Linked DNA regions of Homo sapiens. The protein of the gene in region 1 interacts with the protein of each later gene in a pairwise test. Each region holds a gene or a part of one and is shown on either strand. Other genes may lie near its edges.

The links.
Region 2: the proteins of NYX (region 1) and JPH3 interact in binary tests that used the Homo sapiens proteins (3 or more experiments, as listed by UniProt).

Annotation. Positions count from the first base shown.
Region 1 is NC_000023.11:41,448,596-41,460,771, reverse strand, and holds part of NYX (nyctalopin precursor), read right to left. Parts: intron 1-12,176.
Region 2 is NC_000016.10:87,605,504-87,612,507, forward strand, and holds part of JPH3 (junctophilin-3), read left to right. Parts: intron 1-7,004. UniProt on the Homo sapiens protein: Junctophilins contribute to the formation of junctional membrane complexes (JMCs) which link the plasma membrane with the endoplasmic or sarcoplasmic reticulum in excitable cells.

The DNA.
Region 1 (12,176 bases):
GGGCAGGAGGGAGAGATTATAATGGGGCATGATTCTTGGGGGTGATGGATATGTTCATTATCTTGATTGAGGTGATGGTTTCGTGAGGATACACTTTAAATATGAATTGTATGTATGTATGTATGTGTTATATATATGACTATACAGAATGTAAAAATAACTCCTACAAATGAATAATGAAAAGACAACTAAGTAAAAATCGGTGATTGCTTTCACTTTGCCAGCAAAGAAAAAGAATAAAATTTTTTAAAATTTATTTTTAAAAAATGGATAAAAGACTTGAATGCTTAACAAAAGAATAGGCTGGGTGCGGTGGCTCACGCCTGGAATCCCAACACTTCTTTGGGAGGCCGAGGTGGGCAGATCACTTGAGGTCAGGGGTTCAAGAACAGCCCCGCCAACATGGCGAAACCCCGTCTCTACTAAAAATACAAAAATTAGCCGGATGTGGTAGCGGGTGCCTGTAATCCCAGCTACTCAAGAGGCTGAGGCAGGAGAATCGCTTGAACCCAGGAGGCAGAGGCTGCAGTGAGCTAAGATGGCACCACCGCACTCCAGCCTGGGTGACAAAGTGAAACCTTGTCTCAAAAAAAAAAAAAAAAGAAAAAGAATATATTACATGGCCATTAAGCACATGAAAAGGTGCTCAGCATCATTAGCCATCAGAGAAATGCAAATTAAAACTGCAGTGAGATTTTCTGCTAAAATTCAAAAGACTGATAACCCCATATGTTGATGAGGATGGAGAACAACTAGATTCTTTCACATAGTCAATGGGAGTGTAAAATAGCTCAATAGCTTTGTAAAACTTTGGCAATATCTATTAAAGCTAAATATATGCCTATCATATGACTCAGCAATTCCACTCCTAGGTATTTGCCCAAGAGAAATGAAAAAAAAAAAAAAAGTCCACAAAAAGACTATAGAAGAGTGTTCATAGAGGCTAATTTATAATTGATAAAAAGTAGAAATTACCCAACAGTAGAATGGAGAAATAAATTATAATTTATTTGTACAGTAGAATACTACTCAGCAATAAAAGGAACAAACTACTGATACAAGCAATAAAAACATGTTAACAGAAACTTGACACAAAAGAAACATACTATACGATGACTTTTTGTTTTCTTTTTTCTTTTCTTTTTTTTTCCCCAAGACAGAGTCTTGCTCTGTTGCCCAGCCTGGAGTGCAGTGGCATGATCTCGGCTCACTGCAACCTCCGCCTCCTGGGTTCAAGTGATTCTTCTGCCTCAGCCTCCCGAGTAGCTGGGATTACAGGCGCCCACCACCACACCCAGATAATTTTTGTATTTTTAGTAGAGATGGAGTTTCACCATGTTGGTCAGGCTGGTCTCGAACTCCTGACCTCAGGAGATCCACCTGCCTCGGCCTCCCAAAGTGCTGGGATTACAGGCATAAGCCACCACACCCAGCCTATATGATGACATTTACGTGCAGTCCTAGAACAGAGCTGCTGGGAGTGGCTCGGGGCAGCTCAACAGAACAAGACCTACAGATGGAAGCACCCCCAAATGACAGCAAATATCTACAGGACATAGTTTAGGTACTGTGGTAACATATGTTATCTGGGTAATATGAACATGTATAATGCTACTCAAATTAATTAAATTGTATGGGTTTCTTTTGCTCTTAAAACAACGAACTTTGTTGTTGTTGTTGTTGTTGTTTGAGACGGAGTCTCGCTCTGTTGCCCAGGCTGGAGTGCAGTGGCGCCATCTCAGCTCACTGCAACCTCCACCTGCCGGGTTCAAGTGATTCTCCTGCCTCAGCCTCCCAAGTAGCTGGGACTACAGGCACCTGCCACCACACCTGGCTAATTTTTTGTGTATTTTTGGTAGAGGCGGGGTTTCACCATGTTGGCCAGGCTGGTCTCGAACTCCTGACCTTAAGTGATCTGCCCACTTTGGTCTCCCAAAGTGCTGGGATTACAGGCGTGAGCCACTACGCCTGGCCAACAACCAGCTTTTAATAAGAATTTGCTCAGGGCCGGGTGTGGTGGCTCATGCCTGTAATCCCAGCACTTTGGGAGGCTGAGGTGGGTAGATCACTTGAGGTCAGGAGTTTGAGACCAGCCTGGCCAACATGGTGAAACCCCATCTCTACTAAAAATACAAAAATTAGCTGGGCATGGTGGCACGCACCTGTAGTCCCAGCTACTCAGGGGGAGAGGGGCTGAGGTAGGAGAATCACTTGAACCCGAGTGGCAGAGGCTGCAGTGAGCCAAGATCATACAACTGCACTCCAGCCTGGGCAATAGAGTGAGACTCCGTCTCAAAAAGAATTTGCTCAGGGCTAAGCTTGCCATAGACATTATTCCATTTAATATGACAGCCATGCAAGATAAGGATTATTCTTCTCTTCTCATGAAAGAGGAAACTGAGGTTCAGGACGGTTAAATGATGCCAACCTTTGTTTGTTTTTCACTATACTGTACTATCTCCCACCCCACACACCTAGCCTTTCTGAGATTTCATTGCTTTAACTGTAAACTGAAGAAACTGCATACTATGGTTTGAATATGTCCTCCTAAGTTCACGTGTTGGAGACTTAAACCCCACTGCAGTAGTGTTGAGAGGTGGGCTCTTTAAGAGGTGGTTAGGTCGTGAGGCCTCTGCTCTCATGAAGGAATTAATGTTATTATTGCAAAAGTAGATTTGTAATAAAAGCAGGTTCAGCCCCATCTTGCTCTCTCACACTTCCACCTTCCACCATGGGATGGCGCCGCAGGAAGGCTTTTACTTGATGTGAGCCCCTCAATCCTGGACTTCCCAACCTCCAGAAATGTAAGATATAAATATCTGTTCTTTATAAATTGCCCAGTCTCTAGTATTGTTACAGCAGCACGAAATAGACTAAGACACTGCACATCCTGGTCTTTGAGAGCCCTTGTAGCTTTCATTTTCCACGGTCTGACAGCAGGTGTTGCCAGCCACTGCCTCTAAGAAAAAAATACCCTACTCAGAGCCCCATGTGTCTCTGCCATCTCCTCCCAACCACAGCTGTTTGCACCGCAGTTGAACACTTTGACCTAAACAGAGCTAATCAGATTCATTCTTTCTCCGTGAAAATGGAATAGGCAGTGAATAACTAGTCAGTAAGGTGATGTGAGCACCAACCTGTCTAGCTTTGGGGCTGGAGTTTGTACCAAAGCCATGTGCAGGTCAAAGTTATGGGGGAGCAGGAGCCAAGGGCAAGGTGAAGAAGCTGGTGTATTGTCTTAATCAGTTCAGGCTGCCATAACACACTACCGTAGACTCGGTGGCTTACAAACAACAGAAATTGATTTCTCACAGTTCTGGAGGCTGGCAAATCCAAGAGCAAGGCAGATTCTGCGTCTGCCAAGGGCCCACTTCTTGGTTCATAGACAGTTGTCTTCTCACTGTGTTCTCATGTGGTAGAAAGGGCAAGGGAGCTCTCTGAGGCCTTTTTTTTTTTTTTTTTTTGAGATGGAGTTTCGTTCTTGTTGCCCAAGCCTGGAGTGCAATGACACGATCTCGGCTCACTGCAACCTCCGCCTCCCGGGTTCAAGCGATTCTCCTGCCTCAGCCTCCCGAGTAGCTGGGATTACAGGCATGCGCCACCATGCCCAGGTAATTTTGTATTTTTAATAGAGATGGGGTTTCACCATGTTGCCCATGCTGGTGTGAACTCCTGAGCTCAGGTGATCCACCCGCCTCAGCCTCCCAAAGTGCTGGGATTACAGGCATGAACCACCACACCTGGCCTCTGAGGCCTCTTTTATGAGGGCACTAATTCCATTCATGAGGGCTCCACTCTCAGGACCTAATCCCCTCCTAAAGGCGCCACCTCCTAATACCATCATCTTGGGGAGTTGGGTTCAATATATGAATTGGGTGGGGAATGGGGGTCAGAAACATTCAGACCATAGCATGTGTTCTGGCTCCTGAGTACCTTTTAAGCACTCTTTCTACATTTAGAGAATTTCCAACATCATACGTCCTGCCTCCTCAAGATGGAAGCCGGAAACTCTCTTTCTCAACTCCCTTTACAGTTAGGGCTCAGGCATGTGACATAGCTTTGTCAATCAAACACCCAGTAAGACTTGGATTCAGAAGTAGGCACCAGGCAGAAACCAATGTCTGGCCAGAATGATGGCAGAGGCTTTTAGGCTTGCATTTCTGGCACCCAGTACCCAACATGATTCCCTGGAGCTGCCAGGTATGGCCACCAATGGCAGTGGCCACAGGATTTTTGCTGGAGCTGTGCACTTCCTGGTTTAGGCATTGCTCTGGGCAGTGTGGCCTCTAGTAGGAAGCCTGAGAATACCTAATGTCCCTAAGTAAACTCCTTCTTGCCTTCAATGACCTAGAGAAGATGCTTTGCAACAAGAGTCCTGAGCAATATCCTGAATCAGACAGGCTCCCTTAATCTCTCTAGAACCATCTCCCTCTTCCTGGCCTCTCCTCCTTTTCCTGAAGAACCACGTGATGCAATGGCAGGATCTCAGCTCACTGCAACCTCTGCCTCCCGGGTTCAAGCGATTCTCCTGCCTAGTCTCCCAAGTAGCTGGGACTACTGGCACGCACCATCACGCCCAACTAATTTTTGTATTTTTAGTAGAAACGGGGTTCCACCATGTTGATCAGGCTGGTCTTGAACCGCCTAGTCAAGTGATCCGCTCTCCTCAGCCTCCCAAAGTGCTGGGATTACAGGCATGAGCCACCGCACCCAGCCAGTGACCTCTTCACCTTGGCAGAGAAAACAACTCAAATTCAGGACCATGCAGCACCCCTCAACCAAAAGGAAACTGCTCCCCATTCGCTGACAGGAAATACATAACATCAAATCAAACACTGTTTAGGACATCCCTGGTTTTGCTGAATCCAAATGAAAAAATAGCCTCTCCCAGAATCAGCAGTGATCATTCCAAAAACGAATCTCCTTGGCTATTCAGAGCTGGGTTCCATGGGAATACCTTGGCCAGAAAAACATTTACCACATTAAAAATAAAGATTACAGTTTGTGAAAAGAGAAGGTGAAACTCATTTGGCAGTTGCTTAGCAATTTCTCTTCTTGCACCGGTATTTTGGGGAAGGATCCATCTGGAAATCGGAAAAAGGCTTCAGAGCTTTTTTTTCCCAGTCTGAGGTAGGGAGGGGAAGATGAGAAATAAATGTAGCAGGACTGCCCTGGGCTCATGACAGGTCCCTACTCAGCCAGCCTCTGTCATCACCCCGGGATTCACATGCAAGGCTTTCCAGAACATTCGGTCTTAAAATACTCACCCCGAGGGCACAGCCTCTTGACCTAGTTCTCTCATAAACTCTGAGGACACTCTCATCCCTGTTCTGTCATACTGCTTTAAAAAAAAAAAAAATCCTCAGGCTGGGCGCAGTGACTCATGCCTGTAATCCCAGCACTTTGGGAGGCCGAGGCAGGCAGATCACCTGAGGTCAGGAGTTCGAGACCAGCCTGACCAACACGGTGAAACCCTGTCTCCACTAAAAACACAAAAAATTAGCCGGGCATGGTGGTGGGCGCCTGTAATCCCAGCTACTCAGGAGGCTGAGGCAGGAGAATCACTTGAATCCAGGAGGCGGAGGTTGTAGTGAGCCGAGATTGCAACACTTTACTCCAGCCTGGGCAACAGAGTGAGACTCTGTCTCAAAAGAAAAAAAAAAACAAAAAAACAAAAACCTCAGACAACCTCTGTCTCTCAGTTTCCTCATCTGTAATTTGTAGACAGTTATGGGGGACAGATGTGTCTCGTTGCTTGACACAGCTGTGAAAACACTGGCCCAAGCTAGTTGTGGGCTCTTATGAACCATTCTTGTCACAGGATTAAACCTCACTAAGGCACAAATCCTTCAAAGACCATGTGGAGGCCAGGTGCAGTGGCTCATGCCTGTGATCCCAGCACTTTGGGAAGCCAAGGTGGGAAGATCACTTGAGCCCGGAAGTTCAGGATGAGCCTGGGCAACATGGCAAGACCTCATCTCTACAAAAAATACAAAAATTAGCCAGGCGTGGTGATGCACACCTGTACTCCTAGCTACTTGGAAGGCTGAGGTGGGAGGATTGCTTGAGCCAAGGAGGTCGAGGCTACAGTGAGCTGTGCCTGTGCCACTGCGCTCCAGCCTAGGTGACAGAGTGAGAGCCCATCTTAAAAAAAAAGGATCAGCCGGGCGCAGTGGCTCACACCTGTAATCCCAGCACTTTGGGAGGCTGAGGCAGGTGGATCACAAGGTAAGGAGTTCAAGACCAGCCTGGCCAATATGGTGAACCCCGTCTCTACTGAAAATACAAAAAATTATTCAGGCATGGTGGCATGCACCTATAGTCCCAACTACTCCGGAGGCTGAGGCAGAGGAATTGCTTGAACCCGGGAGGCGGAGGTTGCAGTGAGCTGAGATCACGCCACTGCACTCCAGCCTGAGCGACAGAGTGAGACTCCATCTCAAAAAAAAAAGGGACCATGTGGAAATCTGCCCTAGAATGGAAAGCAAGACACCAGTTGTCAGAATACTGAAGCTATTACTAGGGATAGGCTGTAAAGAGGAGTCTGGAGTCTAGGATGGTTCATTTCCAGGGCTGAACATTAGAATCACCTTGTGGAGCTTTGAAAACTCACAGTGCCCAGGCCATACATCAGATCAATTACATCAGAATCTTCAGGGGTGGGATCAGGCATTGGTATGTTTGAAGCTCCACAGGTGATTACCATATGCAGCCAAAGTCAAAAATCAAAGGTCTAGATGCACCAATTTTATAAAAATGGGATTCATCTGTGTGATATAAAGAGTTACAAAGTGTAATGTAGAGTTAGTATATGACCTAGCAATTCCATGCCTAGGCATATGCCTAAAGGAATTGACAGCAAGGTCTCAAAGAGACAGTTGCACATGCACGTTCACAGCAGCATTATTCACAACAGCCCAAGGTAGAAACAACAAATGTCCATCAGCCAATGGATGGATAAGCAAATGTGGCATAACTATACAACGGAATATTATTTGGCCTTAAAAAGGAATGAAGGCCTGGCACGGTGGCTCACGCCTATAATCCCAACACTTTGAGAGGCCAAGGCAGGCAGATTGCTTGAGTCCAGGGGTTCAAGACCAGCCTTGGCAACATGGTGAAACCCCATCTCTACTAAAAATATAAAAATTAGCTGGGCATGGTGGTGCATGCCTGTAGTCCCAGCTACTCGGGAGGCTGAGGCATGAGAATAGCTTGAACCTGGGAGGCGGAGGTTGCAGTGAGCAGAGATCGTACCACTGCACTCCAGCCTGGGCGACAGAGCAAGACTCTATCTCAAAAAAAAAAAAAAGAAGAAGAAGAAGAAAATAAGATAGTTAATGGTTAATTTTATCTTGTGTGAATTTTCCTTCAGTTTTTTAAAAATCTTACAAGGCGTCCCTGAATCTGGGAAAATAAACACCAGAAATGGCTCCCTGCTTGTGTGTCCCTATCGGGTGTCCTGGCCAGCCCCCGAGCTGCAAGGAGGCAGGGATGGCCAGCCTCAGGCACCCGCATAATGAGGTCTAATGCAGACCATCTGAGCAGTTTCTCTTTCCTAAGCCCTCGGCTTTTCAAATATGTGCTTTCCCACCTTGAGGTTTGCTAGGAGAACAGCTACTTGGTGTTTCCAACCACAGACTGAGATTGGAATGTTTCTTTATTCTCATTGTTTTAAAAGAACTTGAGCCTTATGAAACCAAAAATAGCAAGGGAAAACATGGTCAAATTTCTGGTTTCAGCAAAATCTATTTAGCTACCTTGGCTCTAGAAATCACTTTCCTTCCATTCTTGGCAAATGCTACCAAGTGGCTCCTCGGACCAAAACCCAATGCTGGATCTTCAAAACAAGACTGGCTGGAGGAAACAGAAGTGCGGAGGCGGAGACCATGCTGTGGCCTCTGGCCTCCTGTGACCCCAGAACTTGGTTTTCACCCCATGCAGGTACCTTTTGTGACAGGAAAGAAAGGATTCGAGCTGCAGTTTTGCTGGCTAACGTGAGTCATAAGGGATGGAGAAGTCAATGTTTCCAGAGGGGTGGTGTGCTGGTAGCCTCGCAGGCCTGGTGAAACTTGAAGATGAACATCTGTCCCATCTAAGGAGAAGAACGCAAGGCCCCAGAAAGGCCTCCGGGCCTAAATATAAACAATCACCTCAAACTGGAAACAAACACCCGACAATAGGGGAATGGATAAACTAACCAGTCAATCTGTACAAATGAATATTACTAGGCATTCAAAAGGAAAAACTACTCTAATCCACGTAATAACGTTGATGAATCTCACATACATGTTGCCTGATATACCACACTGCCTGACTGTGGACAGTGAAGCATTTTTTCTGCTTCTGGTACAGCCACTCTCTCCCTCCAGCCTTCATTTTTTCTTTTAAATCAAGTTGATTAAGGTATACTTTACTTACAATAAAATGTACCCATTTTAAGCGTGCAGTTCAGTAAGTATAATAAATGTACACATGCCTGTGTAACCACCACCCCAATCAAGACTTAGAACATTTCTGGCTGGGCACCCAGCACTTTGGGAGGCCGAGGCAGGAGAATTGCTTGAGGTCACGAGTTCAAGACCAGCCAGGGCAACATGGCGAAACCCCATCTCTACAACAAAAAACAAAAATTAGCCAGGCATGGTGGTGCACATTTAGTCCCAGCTACTCGGGAAGCTGAGGTGGGAGGATCCTTTGAGCCCAGGAGGTTGAGGCTGCAGTGAGCCATAATCGCACCACTACACTCCAGCCTGGGCAACAGAGCAAGACCCTGTCTCAGAACAACAACAACAGCAACAGCAAAAAGACTTAAAACATTTCTACCACCCAGAAAGTTTCCTCAGGCTCCTTTGACTTCAGTCCTTTTCCCACCCCTGGCTCCAGGCAACCACTGACCTGCTTTCTGAACTATAGATTAGTTTTGCCTGTTTTAGAACTTTACAGAAATGAAATCAAGGTCGGGTGCAGTGGCTCACGCATGCAATCCCAGCACTTTGGGAGGCCGAGACAGGTGGATCACCTGAGGTCAGGAGTTCGAAAACAGCCTGGCCAACATGACAAAACCCCATGCCTATTAAAAATACAAAAATTAGCAGAGCATGGTGGGGGGCACCTGTAATCCCAGCTACTCAGGAGGCTGAGGCACGAGAATCACGTGAACCCGGGAGGCGGAGGTTGCAGTGAGCCAAGATCACACCACTGCACTCCAGCCTGGACGACAGAGCAAGACTCTGTCTCAAAAGGAAATGAAATCAAATGCTTATTTTGCACAACCTTCTGTAAAGTTCATCCATGTGGTCATGAATATCAGTTGATCATTCCTTTCTATTGCTGAGCAGTATTTCCCTGGATAGAGGTGCCTCAATTTGTTTATTCACTCACCTGTTGATGGACATTTGCATTGCTTCTAGTTTCAGCCTATCGTGACTAAAGCTGTGACATGTGTTTTTGTTTCTCATTTATCTAGGAGTGGGATGGCTGAGTTATATGATAAGTATGTATTTCACTTTCTAAGAAACAGTTCTTCAAAATGGTTGCACCATTATACATTCCCAGCAGCAATGTATGGGAGTTCCAGTTACTCCACATTCTCACCAACATTTGGTGTTGTCAGTGTTTTAAATTGTAGCCATTCTTGGCTGGGCATTGTGGCTCACACCTCTAATCCCAGCACTTTGGGAGGCTGAGGCAGCCTCACTTGAGCCTGTCACTTGAGGCCAGGAGTTTGAGACCAGCCTGGCCAACATGGCAAAACCCCATCTCTACTAAAAATGCAAAAATTATGGCTGGGCGTGGTGGCTCACACCTGTAATCCCAGCACTTTGGGAGGCCGAGGTGGGCAGATCACTTGAGGTCAGGAGTTCAAGACCAGCCTGGCCAACATGGCGAAACCCCCTCTCTACTAAAAATACCCAAAAAAAAAAAAAAAAAAAAAAAAAAATATATATATATATATATTAGCCAGGTGTGGTGGCTCACGCCAGCAATCCCAGCTACTCAGGAGGCTGAGGCATGAGAATCACTTGAACCCAGGAGGCAGAGGTTGCAGTGAGTCGAGATAGTACCACTGCACTTCAGCCTGGTCGACAGAGTGAGACCCTGTCTCAAAAAAAAAAAAAAATGTAGCCATTCTAGCTGTGTGAGTGGCACCTCATTGTGATTTTATTTTCCTATAGACTTCCTTTAAAATGCAAATCTTGGTGGGGCACGGTGGCTCACACCTGTAATCCCAGCACTTTGGAAGGCCAAGGCAGGCAGATCACTTGAGGCCATGAGTTCAAGACCAGCCTGGCCAACATGGTGAAACCCCATCACTACTAAACATACAAAAATTAACCAGGTGTGGTGGTGGCGCATCCCAGCTACTCTGGAGACTGAGGCACGAGAATCACTTGAACCCGGGAGGCAGAGGTTGCAGTGAGCTGAGATCATGCCACTGCACTCCAGCCTGGGCAACAGAGCGAGACCCTGTCTCAAAAGAAACACACACAAAAAACACAAACACACAACCCCTGACTCTCTTTGAAGACTCAGTGTAGAGGAAGTCACATGTGAAAGACCCTGTAAAAGAAGTTAAGGGTTTCAGATATTATGCTGTGAACAGCGGGAAGACCCCAGGGGTTAACATGGGGGGAGGAGGTGGAGGTATTTGCACTTATGCATCTGAGAAGTGGGGCACTTCCAGGAGCCCTGTGTGTCCAGAGGAGAATTTCTCTTGCCCCAAATTTCCCTGCTGCGAGCCACTTCTGATTTCTCCAAGGTGTTGTTTTGTGAGGCTCACTTAGTCATTTTCTTTCTGGCCAAGGAGGTAGAGCACTATCCCTGCCTGCTTCTCGGGAACATATTGTCCGTATTGCTTGTGACTCGCAGTCAGAGAAATATTCTCTGTGCTTGCTAGAGTGTGTTTTAAATTAAAGTGCCAGGGGATGTGGAGATGGTCATTAATTTTAAGTGCATCTATTGTTAGCAAATGATGTCACCGCTGAGCTCTCCAACTTGTCACAAGAAGTCTGGATATATTTCGGGTTTCTGTAGCAGGGACAGTTCCTGTTTTGAAGTGTGCAGGCTATGAATACGGTCTGCTTTCTGTGAGGAACGGTAGAGCTTTTGGTGCACGTTTAAAATGATACTGGCTGTTGGAAGCAAACATTGTGCCCCAATGAGTCAATCAAGTTTCATTTTTTTTTCAAGGTAGGAGGAATGGCAAGAAGTTGACTGTTAGTAATTATATAAATATCAACCTCTGTTCTTTAGAACCTCTTCGAGGTAGGAAGTCATGTCCTATTTATCACAGTGTTCCACGTGCCTTGCTCCAATTTTTTTTATTGCTTATTTATTGAATCTCTTATAAAAGAATTTTCTCAAAGACAAAGAGCATGCTATTATATCCCTCATAAATATCTCTCGAGCGTTTTGAAGGCACACAGTGTATGCCTGTTGGTTGACTGAACAGAGCAAGTTCCGGTTTTTGAAAAGGTGGAATAAAGAGGAAGAAAACTCCATTACTCCTGTTTTAGATGATCTGGTAAAATGTTCTCTATCAGCATCGCATACAGAGGTCTATTACATAGATCATCATATCTCAAATAATTAAATTCACTTGAGGGTCAGAAAAAAACAGATTCTTTGTGTAGAATCATTTACTGAAGAATTTAAAGGATTTTTCCTTGGGCTATCTCAGTCAGATTGGAACAGCTAGAGCCAGGGAAAATATTTCATAACGAGTCTTCTTGGTATATTAAAGTGCACATAACAGAGCGAGAAACTTTGAAAAATAACTTCAATATCCATAATCCTATAATTCCAAGGCATTTTTCATTTTTTCTTTTTCCTTTAGGAAGGTGGTTTTTTAAAGGGACTTTTGTTTTTAACTAAATGAGCTTAAAATAATGTGATTAGAAACCACTGTAGGCTGGGCACGGTGGTTCATGCCTGCAATCCCAGCACTTTGGGAGGCCGAGACAGGCAGATCACCTGAGGTCAGGAGTTCAAGACCAGCCTGGGCAATATGGCGAAACCCCGTCTTTACTAACAATACAAAAAATTAGCTGGGCGTGGTGGCAGGTGCCTATAGTTCCAGCTACTCAGGAGGCTGAGGCACGAGAATCACTTGAACCCGGGAGGCGGAGGTTGCAGTGAGCCAAGATCCATGCCACTGCTCCCCAGCTTGGGCG
Region 2 (7,004 bases), on another chromosome or scaffold:
GGCGATTATGTTGTGACTTTTTAGGGAAGAAAGGATCTGATTCTGTGGCTGGCCGTGTAGTTTAGGATCTGACGGGTTAAGGGGAGAGATGTTTTTCTCTATAGGTCCACTTCCCTGGGCTCTCCACTCCAGCCAGACAGCTCCCTCAGCATCCTGCTCCCCTAAGCCCTTCCCCTCCTTGTGGTCCTGCCTGATCATGTCCATTCTACAGATGAGGCCAGTAAGGCCCGGGCTTTGTGATTCAGGAGTCCCAGCCTTTGGCTGCAGGGATCCCCGATCTGTCTGGGACCAAACCCCCCTCGTTCTTGCATCACATTGCCGGAAGAAGCCCAGATTGTCAACATCCTCTCAAGGGGTATGCGGTTCTTAGCTCTCCCATAAGCAAAGCCAGGCAGGGATGCAGATGGGGAGCTTCATGGCCGGCTCTCCCTTTTGGTTGGCAACATGGCATGACAGGAAATAGAATTGACCCTTCTGGTCTTGAGGACTCGGGCCTGGACATCTGGGCCACTTTTCTGGAGGGCTCCCAGCTTCCTGTTGGGAAGGGGGTGATTATGGCACTGAGTGTCCCCAGGCAGCCCATGGAAGGAGCCTGCAGGGTGTGGGGATCGCCAGAATGGGGCAGAGACCTCCATGCCTCCTTCCCAGTCAACTGGTGGGTGGTGACAGCCATGTCGCAGTGAGGAAGGAGTTAATGGCCCCAGCTCCACTCTGACTTTTCCTTTGCACAAGAAGTGGGGGAATATTGGGCAGCCATCAGCGAAGCTCTGGAACCTCAGCCCAGCTCTGGGCGCTGACTTGGGGAAATGGCGATTTTCATGAATGATGCACCAGCGGCCAGCGTATTCCACATGTAGCTGGAATTGGTGTGGAATTTCAGCTGGGGACACCTGTGCCAACTCCTCCTCCTCCAGGTGTGTCCTCCCCTTAGGGTACTCCCTGATTGAGCTGAGTAGCTCCTACCGTCTGCATGGTGAGGCCTGGGGGTGTGGGGTACAGGCACACTTGCTTCCAGTCACAACCCCAGCTTGCATCCTGGGCTTGAATCCCTGCCCTACATGCCCTGTTTTGTGACCCTGGTTGGATTACTTAACCTCTCTGAGCTTGTTTCTTCATCTTTACAAAAGGTTGATAACAATACCTGTAAGGTGGGTGAGGATTAATTGAGAATGGTGTGCGTGGCTATGCCAGGAATATAGTAAGCATACATTATTATTTACCGTTAGTTTTTTCATTACAGTTTCCAGGCAATGCATGTCACTTACAATGATCATTATTAGAACCAACATCTGGACAGGAGACTGGTGATCATGTAAATGATGTTAAATAGCAACATTAGATACTTACTGTCTGCCAAGCATGTGGCAAGTGTTAAATGAATTACAGCCCTTAATTCTTACACCTCTAGAGGGTGATTTTCTTGTTATTCTCATTTTCCACACTGGGAAGTGGAGGCTCCCAGTGGGTGTGGGTTGGGAGGAACCAGCAGGCGTCACACTCAGGACAGCCATCCCAGAGCCTGGGCCTTTGCTAGGTACGTCGCTCTCTAAATGCCCCTGTGCAAAAACACCTCCTGTTCTTTCCTCTCGTTTATATCTCTCGTTCTCTTGTGCGTACAGTGGCCCAGAATTGCAGGTGAATGCCCATGCACAGACGGGCAAACCCATACACTGCCCAGGACCCCTGGCCCCCTGAGGCCCACCATGCATGCCGGTGCTGCACCGCACAGGTATAGATCTTTCCTTCGGGTGCTGTGTACACAGAACCCCTCGAATCGAAAGTTACCCCCTCCAATAAGCCCTCCTACACCCTGAAAGATATGAGTCATCTCACGCCCAAGCCTCTCCCCCTCATACTCAGGTCCCGTTCACCGGCCCAGATTCCTCAACCCACACAAATCACACACACCCACAGTCGGAATTCAGATCCCCCCAGGCGCCTGCGCACACACACGCGCACAAAACACCTGCCACCCGGAGACATTTTCCACCCCGTCCCCCAGAACGCAGCCACTGCGCCCTTGCGGCCTTGCTTGCTCTCCACTGGCCAAGGACTCTGAATCTCCACCAGGCCTGTAAACGGGGAGCTCAGATGACAGAGGCAGTGGTGTGCTTCGTTTCCATTTTAAACACACGTTTATGCTGTTAGTGCCCTTTTAGGGAGAAAAATCCCTCATCTCAACAAAATAAACTACCATGGGGCGTATGCTTTGTGCTTGGCTATGACTATGACTATGCAACAAGTAATTTCTTTTTCAAATGAGTGCCCAGGTTAGAAGGAATCAGGTTCATTGGTGCGGAGATTATGCCAACAGAAACTCATTTCAGAAACAAGAAGCAAGCCCTGAGCAGTTGGAGACGAAAGCGTTTTCTCCGAGATTCTCTTTCCGCTACTTCGGGGGGCGGGTGGTGAAAGGCTCCGTAAGGTGAAAAGAGAAAGGAAGAAGCAAACAGCTATTTTTTTGTTGCCAGTTATAGCTGAGAAACAAATGTGGCTGAAGGGCACCCCTACCCACGTTGGCCGTGAGGCCGTTTGATGGGCTTTGTGTGAGGAATCCTGAGATGAGCTGGCCGGGGAGTGAGGACCGGCACCCGCCTACAGCAGCGATCTGGAGTAGTGAGTGAGCAGCCCCAGCTGACACAGAGAAGGAGAGAGAGAACTCTGACCCCTTCTCTTCTGAGGACACCCAGCCGGAGAGAGCAAGAAGGGGTGGAGTGTGGGGGTGGGGGCAGGAGCCTCTGCTGTTCCTTTCCAAGACTTTTTCTTCCTGTTTTCCCCAAGCCTCCACAACTCTAAATATGACGAGCTCTCAACTGTGAGCTAATAATGTTGAATGTAACGCCCTTTGTGTCCTTAGATGACAAAAAGACTTGTGAGTACTAGAGGAGAGGGTGATGTTGGTGTGAATTTTCCACATTGGTCCGTGTCTCCGTGGACTGGCCGCTTCCCCCGCTGGTAGCTTCATGGCTGTGAGAGGCCATGCGGTGGATGGAGCCACCGCTGCACTGGGGTCCTGGCTCGAACTTGAGTAAGGTGCTGTCTTCCAAGTCTGGAGAGGAGAGGAGGAGAGAAGAGAGGCAGTCCCTTCAGCACCTTGGAGAGCGCTCCCGGCTGCCTGCCTGGGTTGGGTGGACGGCTGGACTCACTTTCGCTCTAGGCATCCTCTTCAAGCCAAACCATCTCTCCTTGCCAGTGACCGCCTGGTCCCGGACCCTCCAGCACACTCAACCACCAGAAGTGTGCCTATGCCTGTGCCAGATGTGGGGGCCACGCCTGCGATCCCAACACTTTGGGAGGCCGAGATGGGAGGTTCACTTGAGCCCAGGAGTTTGAGACCAGCCTGGGCAACATTGTGAGACCCCCGTCTCTACAAAAAATACAAAAATTAGCCAGGTGTGGTGCTGCACGCCTGTGGTCCCACCACTCAGGAGGCTGAGGTGAGAGGATCGCTTGAGCCCCGGAGGTCAAGGCTGCAGTGAGCCAAGATGGTGCCACTGCACTCCAGCCTGCTGACAGAGCCAGACCCCATCTCAAAAGAAAAAGAAGAAGTGTGCCTGGTCCTACTCAGTCGGTGCATGGATTCCATGCTCCAGGAAGGGCTGCCACTTGGCATGCCTGCCTATGTTTTCACCCCTACCCTGTCAGTCCTTCCTGAAGAAGTGAGTGTCTTCTGAGGTAACATCCTCTGCTGGTCAACTGGGAGAGCAGCTCCCAGCTTGTGGAGGTGGGTTTGGGGGTGAGACTTTATTTTTTTGTTTTTATTTATTTATTTATCTGTTTTGAGATGGAGTCTCACCCTGTAGCCCAAGGTGGAGTGCAGTGGAGTGATCTTGGCTCATTGCAACCTCTGCCTCCTGGGCTCAAGTCATTCTCATGCCTCAGCCTCCCGAGTAGCTGGGATTACAGGCATACACCACCACACCTGGCTAATGTTTTGGGTTTTAGTAGAGACAGTGTTTTGCCATGTTGGCCAGGCTGGTCTTGAACTGAACTCAGGCGATCTGCGTGCCTCGGCCTCCCAAAGTGTTGGGATTACAGGTGTGAGCCACTGTGCCCGGCCTAGGGTGAGACTTTAGTAAGATGTATAGAAGTTGCTCTGAAGTCTAAGGTGTATTCCTGCCATAGGATATGTGTGTTCACTTCTCTTGGAGCATAACAGGGGTCATAGGTGCACAGCCGAAGGCAGGCAGAGGAATGATTTGTCTGTACCAGTCAGTGAAACTGTTTCACCACCATTCTCTTTACATCTGCCTCAATGGGTGAGTCCTCTAGACCAATGGTCCCCAACCTTTTTGGCACCAGGGACCTGTTTCATGGAAGACAATTTTTCTACCGCCCAGGGTTGAGGGATGGTTTTGGGATGATTCAGGCGCATTCTATTTATTGTGTGCTTTATTTCTATTATTATTACATTGTAATATATAGTGAAGTAATAATACAACTCACCATCATGTAGAATCAGTGGGAGCCCTGAGTTTGTTTTCCTACAACTAGACGGTCTCATCTGGGGGTGATGGGAGATAGTGACAGATCATCGGACATTAGATTATCATAAGGAGTGTGCAAACTAGGTCCCTGGCATGAGCAGTTTCCAGTAGGCTCTGCATTCCTATGAGAATCTAATGCTGCTGCTGATCTCACAGGAGGCAGAGCTCAGGCAGTAATGCAAGCGTTGGAGAGCGGCTGTAAATACAGACGAAGCTTCACTTGCTTGCTTACTCACTCGCCACTCACCTCCTGCTGTGTGGCTGGGTTCCTAACAGGCAACGAACCAGTACCAGCCACATTTCACGGGCTCAACAGCCACCTGGGACTAGTCGCCACCATATTGGACAATGTAAATCCAGAACATTCCATCAGTGCAGAAAGCTTTATTGGGCAGGCAGCACTGGTCTGGAGTGTAAGTTCCATATGGGAAGCGGTTTGTGTCCATGCTGGTCACTGCCATGTGCCCAGTGACTAAAATGGTGCTGGCACGTGGTGGTCAATAAATATTTGTGGAATGAATGACCTGTGCAAGTAAATGCGGTAGTATTTGGTAATTTTGTTTACCGTCATTATTTCGTATGCCTGTTTCATTGCAAGACCTTAGAATTGGACGTAGTTAAAGGAAAGTTTTTCCGTGAGACCCTCATGTCCACAGGTCAGTCTCCCTTTACAATTAGCATTAAAACATGCCTGTTCTAATTCCTTGATCAGTTTTGTTTTGTGGTTGGCTTTGTCATTGCTCCTTAAGAGACTGCCAGTGTTTCATATGAGAAAGATGATGGTGTTGAATGCAGTGAATAATGGAGCGATACCAGCAGTCATGACTGGGAGGCATTTTTGGACCACGATTTAATGAGTAGCATTCATTGCAAAGTGCAAAGAAAGGCCCATGGAAAGATGAGTACCCTCCAGTCTGCTTAATTCCTCACTATCTTTTTACTGCTCCCTTTTCCTTGGCTTGATTCGTTCAGTCATTGGAGAAGCATTTGCCAAGTTCAGACCGTGTTCAAGGCACAAAGACAGAAAAGCTCAGGTCCAACCTCAGTGAATCAGCCTTAAGTATTTGCTGAGCATTGAGTATGTACGCAGTACAGAGTTTGTGGTAACGTGGAAGATTGGAAAAAAAGAAACAAACACATAAAAATGAAAATGCAAGAAATAGGATGTCCTATGTTCTACCAGGAAGAATAAGGAGTCTGAACAGGGATGCAAAACCGAGATATATGGAATAATTCAGGGTTTCTCATGCCACAGTGGGGGTCCTGAATGGGAGCACCACAGGGCAGGGACCTGAGGAGGGGCAGGGCAGGTGTGTGTGTCCCTGAAGGAGCGGCAGAGGCTTCTGGGGGTAGGCAGTGCCTGAGTTGAGTCTGGAAGGGCAGTAGGGTGAGAGTTGTTATCCCAAGCCTGAGGCTGCAGATTTGTTCGAGGCCATGTCTCCCTCAGCCTCAGCTTCCCCATCTCTATGATTTAGTCATGACATTTTTTTCCTTCTCAACATGTGCCATCTCCCTCCTACCTATGAATGTCACGGGTATTGTTCTGGACCCAGGGAAGGCTCGCTGGTGCAAATGCTTTCCAAAAACACCGAGAGTCGCTCTCTCTGCTGCTGGTGGAGTCTGAGTTGGGCAGGACATGGGCCCGCCTCTGTCTGCTGCTCTATGCCAGTGCTTCCCAAGCCTGAGTGTTACAAGAACCACCTGGAAGGTGTGTCAAGACACAGATTTCCAGCCCCACCCCTGAGTCTCTGGGCCTGGGATGCCACCCAAGAATTTATATTTCTTACAAATTTCAGGCGATGCTGAGGCTGCTGATCTGGGGACCTCACATTAAGAACCACAGTCCTGGGCTTGTGCCTCCTAAGCCTGGCTACACATTCGAGTCACTAAGAATGTCCCTGGGAGACGGTTAGAAATGCAGCGTGTCAGGCCTGCCTGACCTCCAGGGTCAGGATGTGTGTTTGGAGATGCTCAGGTGGCTGCAGTGCAGGAGATCCTGCTTTGGTGCACTCACTTTAACCCTAGCTGTGCATGAGCTTCATCTAGGTTGCTTTAGAAAATGCAGATGCCCGGGCCCCACCCACAGGTGCTGATTGAGGTCCTCTGGGTACAGCCTGGGCATTGGGATTCTTTTTATTTTAATTTTTTTCAGACGGGGGCTGGCTCCGTCTGTCGTCCTGGCGTGCAATAGTGTGTGATCGTGGCTCACTGCAACCTCTGCCTCCTGGCCTCAAGCCATCTTCCCACCTCAGCCTCCTGAGTAGCTGGGACTGCAGGCATGCACCCCCATGCCCAGCTAAGTTTTGTTATTTGTTGTAGAGATGGGGTTTTGTCGTGTTTCCCAGACTGGTCTCAAACTCCTGAGCTCAAGCGATCCGCCCACCTTGGCCTCCTGAAGTGCTTTTACAGGTGTGAGCAACTTTTTTACAGGATTACAGGTGTGAGCAACTGCACCTGGCCTGAGATTATTTTTTAAACATTCCAGGTGATTCTAACGTTCAGCGCAGGTTGAGGACC